Linked DNA regions of Homo sapiens: regions 1, 2 and 3 are each reported to be linked to region 4. Evidence: microRNA targets listed by miRTarBase, many of them from high-throughput screens and not tested one by one. Region 4 holds a microRNA gene; each other region holds the end of a gene's coding sequence.

What was found. Region 4 holds the annotated microRNA hsa-miR-5011-5p (UAUAUAUACAGCCAUGCACUC, at 2,300-2,320, shown strand). A microRNA usually pairs through its seed, bases 2 to 8, with sites in the 3' UTR of a target mRNA and lowers its output. Matches are read on the target gene's strand: a 7mer-m8 pairs with bases 2 to 8, a 7mer-A1 pairs with bases 2 to 7 and ends in A, and an 8mer does both.
Region 1: the mRNA of BRCC3 is a reported target of hsa-miR-5011-5p. Seed matches in the 3' UTR shown: 7mer-A1 at 1,945-1,951.
Region 2: the mRNA of WNT5A is a reported target of hsa-miR-5011-5p. Seed matches in the 3' UTR shown: 7mer-A1 at 1,578-1,584, 8mer at 1,579-1,586, 8mer at 1,581-1,588, 8mer at 1,583-1,590, 8mer at 1,585-1,592, 7mer-A1 at 1,594-1,600 and 2 more.
Region 3: miRTarBase lists PLRG1 as a target of hsa-miR-5011-5p. The part of its 3' UTR that is shown has no 7-base or 8-base seed match.

Annotation. Positions count from the first base shown.
Region 1 is chrX:155,119,871-155,122,870 of GRCh38, forward strand. It overlaps BRCC3 (BRCA1/BRCA2-containing complex subunit 3), which reads left to right. Exons shown (of 11, transcript NM_001018055.3): 10 at 129-298; 11 at 1,353-3,000. The coding sequence ends at 280. Among named protein-coding and RNA genes, the nearest start is that of BRCC3, 50 kb to the left of the region's middle.
Region 2 is chr3:55,467,012-55,470,242 of GRCh38, reverse strand. WNT5A (Wnt family member 5A) reads left to right here. Exons shown (of 5, transcript NM_003392.7): 5 at 1-3,231. The coding sequence ends at 151. Among named protein-coding and RNA genes, the nearest start is that of WNT5A, 19 kb to the left of the region's middle.
Region 3 is chr4:154,534,081-154,537,329 of GRCh38, reverse strand. It overlaps PLRG1 (pleiotropic regulator 1), which reads left to right. Exons shown (of 15, transcript NM_002669.4): 14 at 1-44; 15 at 586-2,325. The coding sequence ends at 645. Among named protein-coding and RNA genes, the nearest start is that of PLRG1, 15 kb to the left of the region's middle.
Region 4 is chr18:67,079,308-67,082,556 of GRCh38, forward strand. MIR5011 (microRNA 5011) reads left to right here and starts at 2,277; the gene lies at 2,277-2,379.

The sequences.
Region 1 (3,000 bases), not on the chromosome of region 4:
TTTCTACTTCCTTCTCCAACCCCTTCTTTCTGTGCTCATGGTTGGGGGTCTGTTGGTGATAGAGTGGAAACATGCTAGTGGATGGTGCTTTTCCACAATTATTCTCATCTTTATTTTTCCTATTGAAGTGTTTACCAAGAATCTGTGCAGTCAGATGTCGGCAGTCAGCGGGCCTCTCCTACAGTGGTTGGAGGACAGACTGGAGCAAAACCAACAGCATTTGCAGGAATTACAACAAGAAAAGGAAGAGCTTATGCAAGAACTTTCTTCTCTAGAATAAATCAGGAGACAAAATGGGGTAAAAAACTTCTTTTTCAATTTGTGTACTAAACACAGTCTGAAAATGCACACAGCTCACATGCAGGCAGACAATAGAGTAGTTATTTTTCACATGCAATCAGCACAGGATGTCTTCCTGACAGTTTAATTAGAGTTCACTGAACCCTCCTACCTATAACTGACCAATAAGGAGCTTATGCAAGATGATTTAAGTAGAATATGAAAGTTATTTTTAAAAAGGCTATGAGTGGTACAATGGCAAGGAATATCTTAGAATAAAATGTCTGGGGGGTATATTTTAAACATTTATATTTCCCTTTCTTTTAACTTGGAAGTCTTTATTTTCATTTTCAAATACATTCACTCACTAGAATATTTTATGTTTCAATTTTGTAGGTATGATGCTTATGTTGGACAAGCAAATAATAAATCTAGTGTGAGTGGAAGGAAGTACCCCACCTCTATGCCCTCACTGAGAGGGCAGTGTCTTCCTTCTTGATTTCTAAAATATATGTTCTGAGATACCTATCAAACGTTGAATCTCTGAGGGTGCCCTTTTTAGCCCAACATGAGTTCTAGCATATTTGACTCTGAAGTAAACTCCTATTGAGCAGATCCTATCTGCCTAGGAGTTTCCATTATAGTAAAATGTGTTTCTCCAGAAACATTTAGGATTGAGGATATAATAAAAATCATGCTTTAAAAAGTTTGGTTGCATTACTCTTATCATGTAAAAGCACAAATGATAAATGTGTCTGCAGAAAAGACATACTTTTCTGTGTGCTTGTTGCATACTGGAAACAAAGTATGCTTGTTGGATACTAGAAGTTAAGTGATAAAGGCTGTTTTTGGTTTTTGTTTCTCCCTCTCATTTTTCACATTTCAAAGTGTTGTCCAGAACCACCTGCATCAGAATCACTTGAAGGTCATACTCTATCTCTGGGGATAAAATCTGCATGAACTACTTAGCTGATTTGAAAACCACTAGCCTTGAGCATATGGAATGTATATACTATATTGTCCCTAATTTCCCACAGCCACTGTTCTTCTCTATTCTTTTTCTTTCCCTATAGGAAAGATGAAAATATCCAGTGTAAAGTTACTTAAGCTAAATCAATTTCAAAGAAGAAAAACTTGGAGGACTCATTTTACCTGACTTCAAGACTTACTATAAAGCTATAGTAATCAAGATAGATGGTATTGGCAGAGGAACAGACACATACGTCAATGGAACAGATGAGAGAACCCAGAAATAAACCCATATAAATATGCTCAGCTGATTTTGAAAAAGTGAAAAAGCAATTCAATGGAGGAAGAATAGCCTTTCTGACAAATTATGCTAGAGCAATTAGACACCCATGGCGAGGAGAAAAAAGAACCTCTACTTAAACCTCACATCTTATATAAAATTTAACTCAAAATGTATAACGGACTTAAATGTGATACATAAAACTAGATAACTTTGAAAAAAGCCACAGGAGAAAAATCTTCAGGATCTTGGGCTAGGTGACAAGTTCTTGGACTTTGCCCCGAAAGCACATCCATAAAAGACAAAATCTGATATATTGGACTTCTTCAAAATTTAAAAACTTGTGATTTAAGAAGAGGAAAAGATAAGCTACAGATTGAGATGAATTTGCAAACCATATATCTGATCAATTTGGAATATATAAAGTGTACTAAAAACTCAACTGAAGTCAGGCATGGTAGCTCATGCTTGTAATCTCACCACTTTGGGAGGCCAAGATGGGAGGAGTGCTTGAGGTTAGGCGTTCCAGACCAGCCTGGGCAACATAGTGAGACTCTTGTCTCTACAAAAAGTTTTTTTAAAAAATTAACTGGGCACCATGACACACACCAGTAGTCCCAGCTACTAGGGAGGCAGGAGGATCACTTGAGCCCAGGAGTTTGAGGCTGCGGTGAGCTGTGATCACACCACCACACTCCAACCTGTGTAACAGAGTGAGGCCTCATCTCAAAAAAAAAAAAAGGCCACAAAACTCAACAATAAAAACAAACAGTCCAATTAGAAAATGGGCAAAAGACATGAATAGATGTTTCACTGAAGAGGATCTATAGATGGCAAGTAAGCATATGAAAAGCTGTTAAACTCCATAAGTCATCAGGGAATGCAAATTGAAACCACAGCGAGGCTATGACTTACTTATCTCAATGGCTAAAGAAAAAATAGTGAAAATACCAAATACTGATGAGGATACAAACTGGATATTTTATACATTGCTGACAGGAATGTAAAATGGTACAGCCACTCTGGGAAAGAGTTTATGAATTTCTTATCAAGTTAAACATAATTTTTTAATCAAGTTAAACATAAGACCCAGCAGTTGTGCTCCTGGACATTCATTCCAGAGAAATGAAAACCTATATTGTACTTGTACTCAAATATTCATAGGAGCTTTATTTGTAATAGCCCCAAACTGGAAACAACCCAGATGTCCTACAACAGGTACATGGTTAAACAAACCATCCATAACTTGGAATACTGCTCTGGAATGAAAAGGAACTAACTGTTGATACAAGAACTTGGTTGTACCTCAGGGGTATTATGGTGAACAAAAAAAAAACCAGTCTCAAATGGTCACATACTGTATGATCGCATTTATATAACATTCTTGAGGTGACAAAATTATTGAAATGAAGAACAGATTAATGGTTGCCAGGGATAGGGACTGGAGGGGGTGTGGGGTATGTATGACTATA
Region 2 (3,231 bases), not on the chromosome of region 4:
CATGGATGGCTGCGAGCTCATGTGCTGCGGCCGTGGCTACGACCAGTTCAAGACCGTGCAGACGGAGCGCTGCCACTGCAAGTTCCACTGGTGCTGCTACGTCAAGTGCAAGAAGTGCACGGAGATCGTGGACCAGTTTGTGTGCAAGTAGTGGGTGCCACCCAGCACTCAGCCCCGCTCCCAGGACCCGCTTATTTATAGAAAGTACAGTGATTCTGGTTTTTGGTTTTTAGAAATATTTTTTATTTTTCCCCAAGAATTGCAACCGGAACCATTTTTTTTCCTGTTACCATCTAAGAACTCTGTGGTTTATTATTAATATTATAATTATTATTTGGCAATAATGGGGGTGGGAACCAAGAAAAATATTTATTTTGTGGATCTTTGAAAAGGTAATACAAGACTTCTTTTGATAGTATAGAATGAAGGGGAAATAACACATACCCTAACTTAGCTGTGTGGACATGGTACACATCCAGAAGGTAAAGAAATACATTTTCTTTTTCTCAAATATGCCATCATATGGGATGGGTAGGTTCCAGTTGAAAGAGGGTGGTAGAAATCTATTCACAATTCAGCTTCTATGACCAAAATGAGTTGTAAATTCTCTGGTGCAAGATAAAAGGTCTTGGGAAAACAAAACAAAACAAAACAAACCTCCCTTCCCCAGCAGGGCTGCTAGCTTGCTTTCTGCATTTTCAAAATGATAATTTACAATGGAAGGACAAGAATGTCATATTCTCAAGGAAAAAAGGTATATCACATGTCTCATTCTCCTCAAATATTCCATTTGCAGACAGACCGTCATATTCTAATAGCTCATGAAATTTGGGCAGCAGGGAGGAAAGTCCCCAGAAATTAAAAAATTTAAAACTCTTATGTCAAGATGTTGATTTGAAGCTGTTATAAGAATTAGGATTCCAGATTGTAAAAAGATCCCCAAATGATTCTGGACACTAGATTTTTTTGTTTGGGGAGGTTGGCTTGAACATAAATGAAAATATCCTGTTATTTTCTTAGGGATACTTGGTTAGTAAATTATAATAGTAAAAATAATACATGAATCCCATTCACAGGTTCTCAGCCCAAGCAACAAGGTAATTGCGTGCCATTCAGCACTGCACCAGAGCAGACAACCTATTTGAGGAAAAACAGTGAAATCCACCTTCCTCTTCACACTGAGCCCTCTCTGATTCCTCCGTGTTGTGATGTGATGCTGGCCACGTTTCCAAACGGCAGCTCCACTGGGTCCCCTTTGGTTGTAGGACAGGAAATGAAACATTAGGAGCTCTGCTTGGAAAACAGTTCACTACTTAGGGATTTTTGTTTCCTAAAACTTTTATTTTGAGGAGCAGTAGTTTTCTATGTTTTAATGACAGAACTTGGCTAATGGAATTCACAGAGGTGTTGCAGCGTATCACTGTTATGATCCTGTGTTTAGATTATCCACTCATGCTTCTCCTATTGTACTGCAGGTGTACCTTAAAACTGTTCCCAGTGTACTTGAACAGTTGCATTTATAAGGGGGGAAATGTGGTTTAATGGTGCCTGATATCTCAAAGTCTTTTGTACATAACATATATATATATATACATATATATAAATATAAATATAAATATATCTCATTGCAGCCAGTGATTTAGATTTACAGTTTACTCTGGGGTTATTTCTCTGTCTAGAGCATTGTTGTCCTTCACTGCAGTCCAGTTGGGATTATTCCAAAAGTTTTTTGAGTCTTGAGCTTGGGCTGTGGCCCTGCTGTGATCATACCTTGAGCACGACGAAGCAACCTTGTTTCTGAGGAAGCTTGAGTTCTGACTCACTGAAATGCGTGTTGGGTTGAAGATATCTTTTTTCTTTTCTGCCTCACCCCTTTGTCTCCAACCTCCATTTCTGTTCACTTTGTGGAGAGGGCATTACTTGTTCGTTATAGACATGGACGTTAAGAGATATTCAAAACTCAGAAGCATCAGCAATGTTTCTCTTTTCTTAGTTCATTCTGCAGAATGGAAACCCATGCCTATTAGAAATGACAGTACTTATTAATTGAGTCCCTAAGGAATATTCAGCCCACTACATAGATAGCTTTTTTTTTTTTTTTTTTAATAAGGACACCTCTTTCCAAACAGTGCCATCAAATATGTTCTTATCTCAGACTTACGTTGTTTTAAAAGTTTGGAAAGATACACATCTTTCATACCCCCCTTAGGCAGGTTGGCTTTCATATCACCTCAGCCAACTGTGGCTCTTAATTTATTGCATAATGATATTCACATCCCCTCAGTTGCAGTGAATTGTGAGCAAAAGATCTTGAAAGCAAAAAGCACTAATTAGTTTAAAATGTCACTTTTTTGGTTTTTATTATACAAAAACCATGAAGTACTTTTTTTATTTGCTAAATCAGATTGTTCCTTTTTAGTGACTCATGTTTATGAAGAGAGTTGAGTTTAACAATCCTAGCTTTTAAAAGAAACTATTTAATGTAAAATATTCTACATGTCATTCAGATATTATGTATATCTTCTAGCCTTTATTCTGTACTTTTAATGTACATATTTCTGTCTTGCGTGATTTGTATATTTCACTGGTTTAAAAAACAAACATCGAAAGGCTTATGCCAAATGGAAGATAGAATATAAAATAAAACGTTACTTGTATATTGGTAAGTGGTTTCAATTGTCCTTCAGATAATTCATGTGGAGATTTTTGGAGAAACCATGACGGATAGTTTAGGATGACTACATGTCAAAGTAATAAAAGAGTGGTGAATTTTACCAAAACCAAGCTATTTGGAAGCTTCAAAAGGTTTCTATATGTAATGGAACAAAAGGGGAATTCTCTTTTCCTATATATGTTCCTTACAAAAAAAAAAAAAAAAGAAATCAAGCAGATGGCTTAAAGCTGGTTATAGGATTGCTCACATTCTTTTAGCATTATGCATGTAACTTAATTGTTTTAGAGCGTGTTGCTGTTGTAACATCCCAGAGAAGAATGAAAAGGCACATGCTTTTATCCGTGACCAGATTTTTAGTCCAAAAAAATGTATTTTTTTGTGTGTTTACCACTGCAACTATTGCACCTCTCTATTTGAATTTACTGTGGACCATGTGTGGTGTCTCTATGCCCTTTGAAAGCAGTTTTTATAAAAAGAAAGCCCGGGTCTGCAGAGAATGAAAACTGGTTGGAAACTAAAGGTTCATTGTGTTAAGTGCAATTAATACAAGTTATTGT
Region 3 (3,249 bases), not on the chromosome of region 4:
AAGCTGATAAAACCATTAAAGTATACAGAGAGGATGACACAGCCGTAAGTTCTGTGTTTCACATTCGTTAAGTAAAACAGCTATACCAATTTGGCAGCATATTCTCATTTAATTATCAGAAGGAAAAATAATCTTTATAGTATTTAAGATATCTGTCTTCTTGAATAGTGTCCATTTATATATTTCTATATTGTTTCACTGATGCCAGTGAATCCATGGATGGCTTTAATTTTATCCCAACTTCCTTTGTTATAGTTGCTGGGAAATGTTGCACCAAGAATAACAGCAAATAAATAGATTGCTATGTAAATTAATTCGAGAATCATAAGCTTTGGTGTTAGTAGAATATCCAAGTAGAAATGTTATTTTAGATGGAAAACTACAAACTAAACATAATGAATCCATCCATCTGTTATTAGACTTGGATAATGCCAGAAGTTTATCAACTCTTCCTAAAACTGTCAAAGAACTAAGTGTATAAAGCCAATGAATAATGTTAGATACCTTATTTTTGTTAGAAAGGAAGCCTATTAGACATGAAGCAAACTAATAATACTTTATTTTAACTCACTTTTCTATTTTTAGACAGAAGAAACTCATCCAGTCAGCTGGAAACCAGAAATTATCAAGAGAAAGAGATTTTAATGAATGTGGAATTTTTTCTCTCTCTTTTTTTTTCTTTTTAATTAAAAAAAAAAAAGCTTGGCGTTCATGAGGATATCCAGTCATTTTGTGCTCTGGCTGGGAATATAAAGGAGAAATTCACTTGCTTCAATCATTGCTGCTTCATATTTTACAATAAACTGTCCCCTGTCCCCTACCCCTGTGTTTTTATTTCTAAAACAATTTGTGATACTAGGAAGATGCAGATATCAAGTAAATGCAGGTTTATTGAACATAACTATTCTAGATGTAATATTTTGACAGTCTTATTAGAAAACCCCCTTTTTTAAAAAAAATGTATGAAACCGATAATTAGGACATTTGAAGGAGCAGTAGTTTTTTTTTAGTCCTTTAAAAAATAACATCTGTGACTAATAATTTGAGATTAAAAGATTTGAAGTCTTAATTTATGTATGTTTATTCCAAAAACAGTTTTTGAGTGTATGTTCTACAAAGTTCTGCACTAGATACTGTTCAGGAAATAGACAAGTAAGATGTGTCTATCCTCTAAGACTTCCAGTTTGGTAGCTTAGTATAGAAATTCTGTAACAGAGGTGCAGGTGAAATGCTGGGGGAACAGAAGGGATAAGACCATTTATTTTTCTCAGGAAGGATTGTGGAAGACTTCATAGAGTAAGTGGCATTGGAGATTACCTTGAAGTGAAGGAAGACAAAGAAGGAAAAGAGATGAGGCATAAAGTGATGAAACCAGGCACAAGAAAGTGTGCGGTGTGTTCTGGGACAAAGAATGTTCTGCTACTGTCGAATAATGGGACTAAAGCTGGCTTGTTCTGGGGAAAGCTCATATAAGTATGGATTTTATTCCTCAACTAGTAGGATACCAATACTGGTATTGAAACTTGGGGAAAATAACTGGAGATACCAGTGCAGCTATTTAAAGCTGTAGCAAGGGCTGCAATCTTGCGGAGATTTTAAAGAGAAGTTTTAAAGTTTCTAATACTGATGCCTCTTTTTGGTAAATACAAGTTTTATAAATCCTGCCCTGGGATCCTGATTCCCCATTAATCAAGATTTGTCAGACTTCACCTTCTATAATTAGAAAACACAGTTATAAGAACAGTCAATTTTTTAAATTTTCCAAATTAAAAAATTGCACCATGATTTTGAACAAGCACTTCCAATTACATTACCCATCTTGTATGCCATAGGTGGGAGTATAATTGTCACAGCCTTTAGGAATGTAGTTTTCTGGGATTTATTGAAACTTTGAACCTTTTGGCCTACTAAGTTCATTCCTAGGAAACTGCCTAATGGGAATGATCTGACAAGTGTACACAAGCAAAGTCATTGCACCTTTGTTCTTTAATACTTAAAACTAGCCCAAATGCCCTGTCAGTAAGGGACTGGTTTAATAGATGGTACCTTTATGCAATTTGTTTCTAAGTATTCGTTAAGAGAGTGAGGAATGTCTGGATTATTAGGGCAAGATTTCTAAACTTGGGTAAAAAAAAAAGTTGTGCAAGCATTTTTGTGGACAACTTGATGCTCTAAAATATAAGTAACACCACATTACTAACAGTGGCTTTGTTAGGAAGCAGAATTATGGAAGAACTTTCATGGGTGGCTTTACATATTTCTATAATGTTTTAATTTTCTATAAGCATGTATTTCGTAAACTTAAATAAAGAAAAAAGAACACTACACTTGCATTCCTGAGAGATTCTGATATGCCTTCTAACAAGAAAAATCAGAGGTGGATGCTGTTCCATCTCTAAAGGCCAAGAAGAAATTACTAGTACAAGGAGATGAGAAAGCCCCTACCGACCTGTCTGGCAAAGCTTCAACTATTGTGTTCAAGTTAGGTATACGTATCAAATTCTGAAAAGCATTAAAAAAAAATCTCTTTCCCTGCTCCATGCTGCCCTGTATTACAGTGTTCTTGAATCCTCTGTTGCATTAATTCATATACCATAATGTGTTTGTGAACCCTATGAAAGATGCAGAATTTCATGCATGTGCCCTTTTACTTACCTGACAGACATCCAACCAGGGTTAAGCTCAAATCTTTTCCACTGCCCATTCCGTACAGCTTGAGTGTAGTCAAGCTATAAAATGTTACCAAAGAAAAACAGCTCCACTGACTGGACTCATTCTTGGTCTATAACCACATATCTCAAGTGGGCCATCAATAATGACCAAATACACATTTCCATAGTTAATGCCTTCTGCCTGCTGTTACAGAGGATGAGCAATCTGCCTCACAACAATTCCCTCTGTGCAGTTGTTGCCATACACTCTTGCCCACTCAAGGACCTTGCTCCCATGATTAAACTCTTTCTCTCCTGTACCATGAATTTCTTCCCTCTGCCCTAAATGAGTGTCATCAACAAATAGGTTGCAATACTGCTTCTTAGAAAAAAAAAACACTAAACCTATTGTTTCCCTCTAGGAATACACCCATTTCTCTACTCTTACAGCCAAACTCTTAGAGTTTTTGATAAACTTATTTCTATTTCCTCACTTTACATTTTTTCAACCAATTGCAAAAAAAAAAAATAATGAAAATGTGTTAAACATTTTTCTTTTGAAAAAAGGAATTGGTAAGTTAATAAGGAAAAATAATAA
Region 4 (3,249 bases):
TATATGGCATTTCCCAAGGTTACTCTGCTTATAACTTTAAAATTTAGCTGTTGCCAAAAAAAAAAATTTCAGCTCAATTTAAATTTCTTTTGTGACAGCTTTTATCTGCTCACCACTGCTTTCTTATGGCAATCATAAATTCTCAATGCGAAGCAAAGCACTGTTCTGCTTTCCTCAAACAAAAGGGAAACTCATCATGTGTTTTATTTTAAGAAGAGCAACATACTTCTCAGGCATTTATTATCTGTATGTCCTCAGGTTTTGTGACAAAAAAGCTATACACACAAACACATCCATGTATGTATAGAAATGTAATTGGAAACATATCAATTTTTTCTAGCCAGTAGATACACCTTCGGACGTCTTGAACTTAAAATGAAAAATTAAAGAAAAACTACATTGCAAACTCTCCATTGTCTCTGGGGTTCTTAGCTCATTTTCTCTGATAAAACCATGGGCATGGACAATTAAGAAATTAAGATGTGACCAATGATACAATAACATCCTGAAAATTGTACAGTAAGCCATCTGACCCTTAGAAACTTGTGTGCAAGTGTGTTTATCTTTGTAGATAGATCTTAATTAAATTACCTGGATCAAAGCTTAACGTATACTAAATTGCCACTCATGAATTATTGTCACACATTCTTGAGACACGGCTTTACAAATTTATATCCTTAAAAACCTAGATTGGAGTGCCTTCTTCACACATCCATGTCTAATATGGATCATGTTGAGTATCTTTGGATATATTAATTTTGCAATTTAATTTCAGAAAAAAGTAGTATAACACTATTGTTTTGATTTATATTTTTCTAATTGCAAAAGTTTTCTAATTTTCATGTATGTATTGGTAATTTGCATTCTATTCCTATAGAATTGTATATATTTTATTTTGTAATTTAGTATTGCTTCTTAAAAATAAATATTGACATTGTATATCATTTCGTTACATATATTGTATGTTTTCCTAATCCATCATGCATCACATACTTTGTTTTCCATATAAATTGTCATATATGTTTATTAACTAACTCATAAATACTCATATCTGTCACCATTTTTTAATGCTTTCTTGTGTTTTGTCATGTTTAGGAACACTTTCCCCACAATTCACAATACTATCTGACAGGTGTTAGTATACCTGTCAGTGTTCTTGGTTGTAGATGACTGAAATCCATTCCAATTGACCTAAACCAGGTAATAGATTATATTGGATAAATCATATAATTATTGGAAGGCTAAAGAAACAGGCTCAGAACAGGGCAGCCCCATGGAAACCAGGTTCCAGAATGGCAGTAAAATCCCCCCACAGGAACAGTCTGATGAGATAGCGCTGCTGCCACCGTGGCACTTCCTCCCCTAGGGCCTGGGATATTTGATGGTTAATTTCTGTACCTCTGTGATGAATACATACTTGTTTGTTTCTTACTGTTTTTACTTCTTGCTTCTGTTTCAAATTTCTCCCCGAAGCCATCTGTTTTAGTTTCCTCAGGCTGCCATAACAGATTAGCATAAAACAAATGGCTAAAAGAACAGAAATGTATTCTCCCCCAGTTCTAGAAGCCAGTTCAAACTCGGGTGTCGGCAGGATTGCATTTAATCCAGGATTCTAGGAGACAATTCTTTCTTATCTCTTCCAGTTCCTGGTAGCTCCAGATGTTTCTTGGAGCTACACTTGGCTATTTAAAGTTAATTTTAATGTTTAATTAACTAAACATTAAAATAATTAAAAAGTCAGTCCCTCCATTGTGTTAGCTGTATTTGAAATACTCAAAGGCACATGTGGCTACAGGCTACTATATTGGACTATGCAAGGGTAGAACACGTGTTATCACACAATGGTCTCTTGCACAGTATTGCTCTAGAATATTCCCTGGACAGAAAAGTTTTACCTGTGGGGCATTAAACAACAAAGAGCCTTACAATTGCCTCTGACTTGTATAGTAAAGCCAACAGTTGTTTGTTGTCATCGTCAGAAAAGTTGATTCCATATTTGAATATGGTTTCACTGCTTGTCATGCTTGGCCAATGCCACAAACCATGGATTAACTGATGGCCTTCTCCACTCTCATGGCTATTCACCCCCAACAATAGAACTTATTTCTTTCATGTTGCCTCATATGGCAGAATCCCCTTCTATTTTAAGGCTGAATAATATTTCATGGTCATATACATATATACACACACACAGTCATGCATTGCTTAACAGGGAAATGTACCTTAAGGCAATTTTATCATTGTTTGAACATCATGGAGTGTCCTTATCCAAACCTAGATGGTATTGAGTGGATGCTGTTATATATACAGCCATGCACTCTGTAGTTTGGGTACACAGTGCATGGCTGTATATATAACACTATCCATTCATCTTTCAGCAGGACTTTTTTTTGGTCACAACCCTGCTAACCAAAACAGGATCTGGCCAGAGAGCATGAAGTGAAGAAACTGATAGGAAGTGGCAGATGTCAACAAAAGCAATCTCTAACTACTCATTGCAATTTAATTGTCATGGTGCTGGTGGTAGTGTCTTATGCTAATGAGCAATATGAGCAGCCTGGCAACACAACCCAGAAGTTACCACCTCTTTCCATGGCAACAACCTAAAAGTTACTGCCCCTGCCTTAGAAAGTTCTAAACAACCTGCCCCTCAATTTGCATTGGCTCACCCCTCAATTTGCATGCATTTGACCTGCCTTAGAAAGTTCTAAACAACCTGCCCCTCAATTTGCATTGGCTCACCCCTCAATTTGCATGCAATTGAATGTGGGTCTCGCTGAGTATAAATACCGTTGCCAAGAGACCATATGTTGCTGACTCTGATTGCACTGCCTATGATTTAGCCCTGCTCTGCAAGGAGCAGTACCATTCAATAAACGATTGCTAAGACTCCTAGCTCATCCTTGAATTTTTTCCGGGGTTAAGCAAGAAATCCTCCCTGGCTAAGCCCCAGTTTGGGGCCTTGCCTGTCCCACAGCAGTGTAACGTACTACACACTTAGACAATATGACATAGACTGTATCTCCTAGGCTACAACTCTGTATAGCTTATTATTATACTGAATGCTATAGGCAATTGTAACACAATAGCATCCGTACATCTAAACATACCAAAACAAAGAAAAATTACACTAAAAACACAGTATCGTAATCTTATTGGACCACATTTATATATGTGGTTTTTTGTTGACTGATGCAATACACAGTGCATGGCTGTATATGTAACACTATCAGTCACCATTCAATGAGC